2 linked regions of the Homo sapiens genome follow. The protein of the gene in region 2 purifies or fractionates together with the protein of the main gene of each other region. This does not show direct contact. Each region holds a gene or a part of one and is shown on either strand. Other genes may lie near its edges.

Region 1 (3,233 bases), about 57 Mb from region 2:
TCACGGCTCACTGCAGCCTCTACCTCCCCAGGCTCAGGTGATCCTCCCACCTCAGCCTCCCAAGTAGCTGGGACTATAGGCACACATCACCAAGCCCAGCCAAATTTTGTTTTTTTTTTGTAGAGATGGGGTTTCATCACGTTGCCCAGGCTGATCTCGAACCTCTGGGCTCAAGCAATTCACTCGCCTCGGCCTCCCAAAATGCTGGGATTACAGGCCTGAGCCACTGCGCCCAGCCAGGATTTGAATTATTTTAACTCATCCATGGGCTGCCCTAGAATGTCACAAATGAGGGTTGTTTAATGCCTTTCTTATAGCTGCTACTGGAACACTATTATGACCTAATTTATGAGCCATCCTTACTCATCTACAAGTGCTGAAGCAATGTTACATACTTTTTTGCTAAACTCAGATTTTTTAGCCTAATTTCTTGTCCTCCTATCCACCTGCATCCACACATGGCCTGCATGGGGCTGCCTTCCCTGCAGTGTTCTGCAGCCATGCTTCAGGGTATAGCTGTTGGTGGACAGCCTCAGGTCTTGGGGGCACTATAGCCACTAAACGAGGTGTGAAAGGCTCAAGAGGATGACCAGCAATTAATTATCCCCAGAAAGTGAAGGAAAAGAGACCTTTAGGGATGTTGCTGGTCAAGTCTTGATTTGACCGGAGTCAAATCAATCTTCAAGCAATCTTGGAATCCTCAACTGCAGTAAGCATTTCAAAATGCAAACAAACTGCTTAACAACTGACAAGACACCAGCCCATACGCTGCTCTTCCAACAGTGGGTTCTAGCTTTGAACAAAAGTGCTAAACATTTCCTTGAATATATTCTTCCTCTTTTTGTCCTCATCACTCAATACTGGTGCTCTTGTCACAGGTAGAACAGCTTGTTTCTTTTCCATCTATTCAAGTGTGTTTCTAATTCTAAAATGCTGATCTTCTCTGGAGTCTATGGTAGGCAATTATGGTCACTGGAATAGTTTGTCTTGTTTTAAAATATTATTGGTGCATGTACAACAGCATCCAACATATCTGTCTTGTTCCTAGATATATAGCTCTGATTTTAGGCCTTTTGTGCATACCATTACAATATGGTGGGGTAAGACATTCTACAGTAGCCTGTGCTGAACTGATCTCTTAAATAAACTTGCTTCTGGTTAACTATGTTGATGAAATCTGAGAGTCCATTCAGTAGCCCTCATCTCACCCTTCAAAGAGAGTCAGCTAGCAGATTAGAAACAAATGTCTGATTAGGATGAAGCAGGTTTGAGGGGTGCTGGTATAATAGCAAGAAAGATTTGCTGACCACTCTCTTTCCAAACTCCATAGTTTCTGAGTGGAAACGAGGATGAGTGAGGTCCTGGCTCAAGTATTTTACTCCCACTACCACCTGGGAGCCCTCCAGGAAAAGAGCTGAGGCTGCTCCAGATGGAAGTCAAGAGCAGCTGGTATTTACACCTGGAAAATCAGATTTTTTTTTCTTTTGCAATAACTCGGTAGTAAGACCAGACCAACAATTTTAGAGAAAAGCCTACATCTAACATACATGCTACCAAACGAGTGTCTAACAGGAATAAACCAAGCAGAAATCTCAAAACAGGTCTACATCAAAAGTTACAAGCAAGCATATCAGGTGCAATACTGAGGATGAGTATATTAGGAAGTAAAAACACTTACCGTAAATGAATATTCGAAGTGCACACTGCAATGGGTTGATTGGAGAGATATCTAAATGTAAACATTTGACATCAAAGTGGCAAGCTTTGGGCTCCATTGGAAGGCTGCAATTTCCATGGAAAAGCCCTCAGAGAAGCATGTTTCAATTGCCGAAACAGGCCTAATCCTTATGCAAGATGTAAGGGTTTTAAAAAGTTAGAAACTCTGCTCTCACCTTTCAATATTAAGAGCATAAACAAATGAATCACCAGGCAGATTTTTATATATGACACTAAGAGATTTAGAACTTTAAGAGCTGTGGTGACCACATTATGGTGGAGGAACAAAAAAGGAAACCTTGGCAGTTAGAAAGCTGCTCAGTGATGAATTCAAGAAGGAACCAGCTTTAAATTATCTCTTCATGCCAACATCCATCTATACACTGAAAGTTTTAGTATTGTACATTAAGACGATCAGGCCCAGCAGGGTGGTTCACGCCTGTAATCCCAGAACTTTGGGAGACTGACATGGTGGATCACTTAAGCCCAGGAGTTTGAGACCAGCCTGGGCAACATGGCAAAACTGTCTCTACTAAAAATACAAAAAAACTAGCTGGGTGTGGTGATGCATACCTGTAGTCCTACCTACTTGAGAGGCTGAAGCAGGAGAATCGCTTAAGGTCAAGGCTGCAGTGAGCTGTGATTGTGCCACTGCACTCCAGCCTGGGTGACACAGCGAGACCCTGTCTCTAAAACAAAAAAGACAATAAAGTAGTTTAAGCTAGTAAAACAGAAGGTGCCACAACAACCTGCAAAGCCAGTGTGAAGGAACAGCTTGAAAAAACTTCGAATTTCTACTGACTACAGACAAATCCAAGTGCTGATATTTTTATATCAATTACTGGCCAAAATGGTGTGTTTATTTTTTAAAGCTTGTATCATGGAATGTATAATCTAATCTGGAAAAATGTTTGAAAGGGATGGCTAGAAAAAAATTTGGGCTCACAGGCACTCACCAAATAAGAACGTCAACAATCACTAAACTGCATTTTTATTTAAACAACATTAATTACAGTCTTTCCTCGTGCGTGTCCTCTTTCCACCTTCAGGAAGGCTTCTGGAACTTTAGAAAAAGGAAAGGTTTGTTCAATAACTGGCCGGATCTGTAAAACATAAGAGGTTGACCGGTGGATAAAAAAGCCTACATCTTTCAAGGCAGATGACATTGCTAATTAGTTTCTTGACGGTGTCCCTCAAGCCACAGTCTCTCTCAAGTGTCTCTCCAGTGGACCCAGGTCAGGCTCTCACAAGGGCCATGATGCTGCCTCCACTCCTGCCTCACTGCTGCTTCTCTCTTTATGGCCCCTCCCACCCCACTGCCCAGTCTTACTTCTCCTCCATGCTGGTCTTTCACTCTCCTACTTAGAACCGTTCAACAGCTCCCACTCCGGCATTCGAAGACCAATAGCATCCTGAGCTCAGCCCTCATCCAGATTCCATGCTTTGCAAAAACGCTCTACCTGCCATTTTCTCCACGTGGTATGTTTATGCCTCTGCTGGTACGAGTCAGTAAGCCC
Region 2 (4,596 bases):
GTACAAAAATAATCTATTTTAATGTATTATTCTAACTTCAAAATAAGAAATTCTTGCATAGATTTTTTCATCATAGTATTTTATTTATTATAGTATTTTTCTCTTTATATCAACTGTACTTGTCAGATATGTAGCTAACTTCATTTCTTTTAAATGATTAAATAATTATTCCACACTATTTATTAAAATAATTTCTTCACCTCTTTAAATGATTTTCACTGTATGCTTAATGTTGTTATATGCTAAACTCACAAACTCTAGATCTCTTTCAGCTATCAATTGCATTTTATGAATATAGCTATGGATTTTTGAAACAGAAACAGCTTAGATTACAAAAGTGTGTAATAGAAACAGCAGATGCTTTATTGTATTTTATTTCTTTATGTATGAACTTTAAAAAGAAAATAAAACAAACTTGCAGAAGAGTACCCAAAAATAAATGCTCAGCTAAGAGTGTTATTAAACATTAAGGACCTATGTAAACACTACCCAAGTCAAGAAATAGAACATTTCCGGCACACTTGTGCCCCCTTACAGTTACTATTCCTTTCACTCTTTCAGTTAAAAAAAAATTGTCTTGATTTATATTTTGTTTAAGCCTGCTCATTTTAAAGCTTTATGTGAATGCAACAGTACAGCACATATATTTTTACATCTGATTTTATTCACTCACAATATTGTATTTTGAGATTTGTTCTTGTTTTGTATAACTATAATTCTTCCATGTTCATTATCATATAGTGGACTGTTACATACATATACGACATTTTAGCCTTATCTGCTGATGAATATTCAGGTTGTTTCCCATTTTTGAATACTTTTGTACTTGACTCTTGGGGCACATGCTCAGGCATTTTTGTTGGGCATATCCCTAAGGGTGAAATACAATGGTAAGGTGTCTACATAGCTTCAACATTAATAGATAATGCCAAACAGATGTTCAAATAATTGGTGCTAACTTAAACTTCCAGAAGCATTGAATAATAGTTTCAGACATCTAAAATCTAAGAAATGCTTGATATTTTCAATTTAGTAATTATGATGTGAATGTAGACACCTCATATATCTTAACCCATTTTATATTTCATAATAAAATGCCAATTTTTCTGATTACTGAAAAAGGGTAACATATTTTCTTATGTTTACTGACCTAATAAATATCTATCATTTAGAAAGTGATCCATCTTTGGTTTTCTATTGGACAGTCTGTCTTTTTTATACTGTTTTATGTATGTTCTTTATATATTCTAGTTGTGTTCCTTTTATATGCTAAATGTATTGAACATATTTTTCTCCATATAGAGCTTGCTTTTTTTAGTTGGTGTTTTTTGACTGACAAAAGTTTCCAAATTTTAATGTAGTCAATACTATTTTTTCTACTGATTAAGAAATACTACTACTTGTATGTTAAAATTGTTAGTAAATTCTTTTACATTAACTTGCATGCTTTATTGTTTTGCCTTTTTCCATGCTTGCATCTCAGGTTATTTGGAATGAGATTTTGGATGTGGTAAGAGGCAATAGTCAAGCTTCATTTTTTCTTCATATGGCTATGCAATGGAACCAGCCCTATTTATTGAAAAGCTTATTTATTACGTTGTTCTGTAGTGCCATCTTTATCTGTTTCTGGGTTCTCTATTCTCCATTGATTTATTCAAAAATTTATATGTATTAGATAATTTCTGAAAAAATTACATCATAATGAATCTGAACAACAACAAAAAGAAATAGAAAATCTAAATGTTTCCAAATTCATTAAGGGAATAGAATCCATAATAATTAAGCTTCTATAGGGAAAATACCCAGCCCAGATAGGTTCACTGTTGAATTCTAAACATTTAAAGAAGAAATAACACCAATTATACACAAACTTTTCCAGATAATAGAAAATAAAAGGATGTTTCTAACTTATTTTATGAGATCAACAATACCTGGTACTAAAACTGATCAGGACATTACAAGAAAGAAAATTACTCATTAATACAGATGCAAAAAGTTTCTTGTTCACAATATTCTCCCATGATCTTTTTGATATCTGTAGCATATATACTAATATCTCTGATAAAGTTTAGTTTTGCCTTCACTTTTTCTTTACAGTTTTGTCAAAGCTTTATTAATTTTGTTAGTCTTTTCAAAAAACAAAATGTGGCCTTCTTTATTTTCTCTAGTGTCTGTTTTCTACTTACATCTAATTAAGTCTTATTACATGTTTGTAACTGTCATTTTAATTTGATTTTCTTTTTTAACTTCATCAGTTAAAATTTTAGTTACATTTTTAGTTTTAATTCTTTTTAGATATATGGATATAACTATATTAATTTCCTTGTAAACCCTACTATGAACTTTGATTTATCTCATTTTTATTACTATTCAGTTCAAAATATTTTCTAATATCCATTTGATCATCTTATAGATTCTGTTATTGATATTCCAAGAAATATACACTGCTGTTCTCAGTTCATTCAGTTTCTCTAGGGTCTAATTACTTTCAAGCTTTCACTTCTGAGACTTATAAATAAATTTAATATATTATAGTTTTCTGAACAATTTAAATATCTAGAAGAAAACTCAGTCCAAAAAAATTGAAAGATGTTGTCTTCATTATCTCATTTTATCTACATATTTGGAGAATGAGGTGGGTACAGTACACCAGTATAATGATATTATCAATGAGGAAACCAAGATTCAGTATAATAAAGACACTTATTTAATTGATAAGATTGCATTAAAAATTTGCATTCTACAATTAATAATTTATTATTTCTATTTCTAGTGAGAAGTTTTACACAAATATAACAGAGACATCTATCTTACCTGGTAGAATGAAGGTCACATAACACAGAAAATGGAGATAGTAAAAGATCCTCATTCTGTAGAAAGAAGTTGTTGAAAGACTTGATAACAGAATATAGAGACTATAGAACTTTCCAAAACCCAAAAGACGTTTACTATTTATAGTTTTCTCATGGAAGAGAAACTCTCGTTATCTGGAAATTGTTTTAATTTTGTGTGCCTATCTCTGCTCCAATGACTATGGCTGTGGGCAGAATTACCCAAATTGAAAACACTTGAAAATAATAGAGCTTTTGGAAGGAATCCCTCTGTGAATGATAGCTGTAAACATGGCATCTTCCTATCATTGCTAATTAATTAATGATCAATGCAAAGGGGCATCCATGGAATAAATTTAAGGTAAATACTTATTTACTACTTCAGAAATAAAACAGCTGAACATTGTCCATTAATCTGCTGATTACTTTTCAAAATTTACTGTAATCACTAATCTGGTGTGTCAATTCATCAATATGCCTGCATATCAAAAAATTTTAATTATATCATGTTATCCCATTAATTTCCCCCAAATTATTCATTTACAAGACCCAAATATTAAGCCTCACTTTTATCACTAATTTCTGTTACATTTTTGAGATGGAACTTAAATATTCACAAAACTCTTGTTTTCCTAGTAAAGCTCAATAATTCTCCACTTTTTTTAACATTTAAATATTTAATTACATGGACACAATAAATAATGAGAAGAGACTGTAATGAATAGCAATAATTTCCTACCCACTAGGCCCTCTAGTGATTACTAACATAAGAACAAGGATGTAGTTTATATCTTATCTTGGCTTACCAAACAGAGTACATCTCTTGGTTTCTACTAAGAAAATTACAAATTTAGATTACTTACACTCTTTTCTAGGCTATCTTTATCAAATATTTTGAAGTTATGTTAATTTTTTAAAAATGTTATAATCTTCAATAAAACACTTATATTTTTCCTATCAACTGTAGTTGCAATATTAAGCCTTCCTCACTTAAAATGAAAATATTAGCCCTCTTGCTAGTTACTCCAGCAATTCTCCCCACTTTTTACACCTCATTCATTTGTTACACATTTCCTTTCATCTTGTGTAAGATAATATGTGTACTCTATGTATAATTAGAATTAAAACATACACTTTATTTTTAGACTGTAGTACAATAAGTATTATCAATTATATTGCCTTTTTCTATGTGCCCAATATCACAACACTTGGGTTAATCAAAGAGAAATGCTCTTGGTTTCAAAGTCAAATTGACATTATTATTAACATTATTACCAATAATTTATTTTATATCTTTCTTTTCTTCTTTCTGCTTTCTTTTTTCTTAAGTGTTTTTTTGTGTTTTTATTTTGTTTTATATTTGGTTATGTCATTATTGAAGAGTATTTCTTCCTGCAGTTTTCTTTGTATATGTGGACAAAATATAAATAATAGGCATTCTCTATCGTCAAGTTTATCTGAGTAGCATAGGTGAGTCCTGAGATTGCTTCATTCTAAGATTTTTCTAAACCTGCCCTCCTGAGTTTAATTTACCGTGATCTGGATCTTGTGTCTTTTTTTGTTGTTGTTCTTGTTTTTCTCCCTCCAGAATTGTTTTCAGAAAAGATTTTTTTAAATTAGAATTTTGTTTCTAAAAAATATTTTTATTCTGCCCTCACATTTAGTTATTTGGATGTTAAATCTAGGTTCAAAATCATGTTCCTTCACAACTTTGAAGCTGTTACTCTACTAACATCCGGCATCCAGTCTTCCTGATGAAAACTCT

Evidence for each region.
Region 1: the proteins of DEFB114 (region 2) and CRYBG1 purify together in Homo sapiens (affinity purification with mass spectrometry; one large-scale study listed by BioGRID and IntAct). This does not show direct contact.

Annotation. Positions count from the first base shown.
Region 1 is NC_000006.12:106,569,285-106,572,517, forward strand, and holds the end of CRYBG1 (beta/gamma crystallin domain-containing protein 1), read left to right. Parts: 3' UTR 1-2,711; downstream 2,712-3,233. Other genes in the region: RTN4IP1 (NAD(P)H oxidoreductase RTN4IP1, mitochondrial isoform 1 precursor), read right to left, coding at 2,712-2,819. UniProt on the Homo sapiens protein: May function as suppressor of malignant melanoma. It may exert its effects through interactions with the cytoskeleton.
Region 2 is NC_000006.12:49,961,237-49,965,832, forward strand, and holds the start of DEFB114 (beta-defensin 114 precursor), read right to left. Parts: upstream 2,929-4,596; 5' UTR 2,870-2,928; coding exon 2,815-2,869; intron 1-2,814. UniProt on the Homo sapiens protein: Has a salt-sensitive antimicrobial activity against Gram-negative bacteria, including E.coli, Gram-positive, including S.aureus, and fungi, including C.albicans.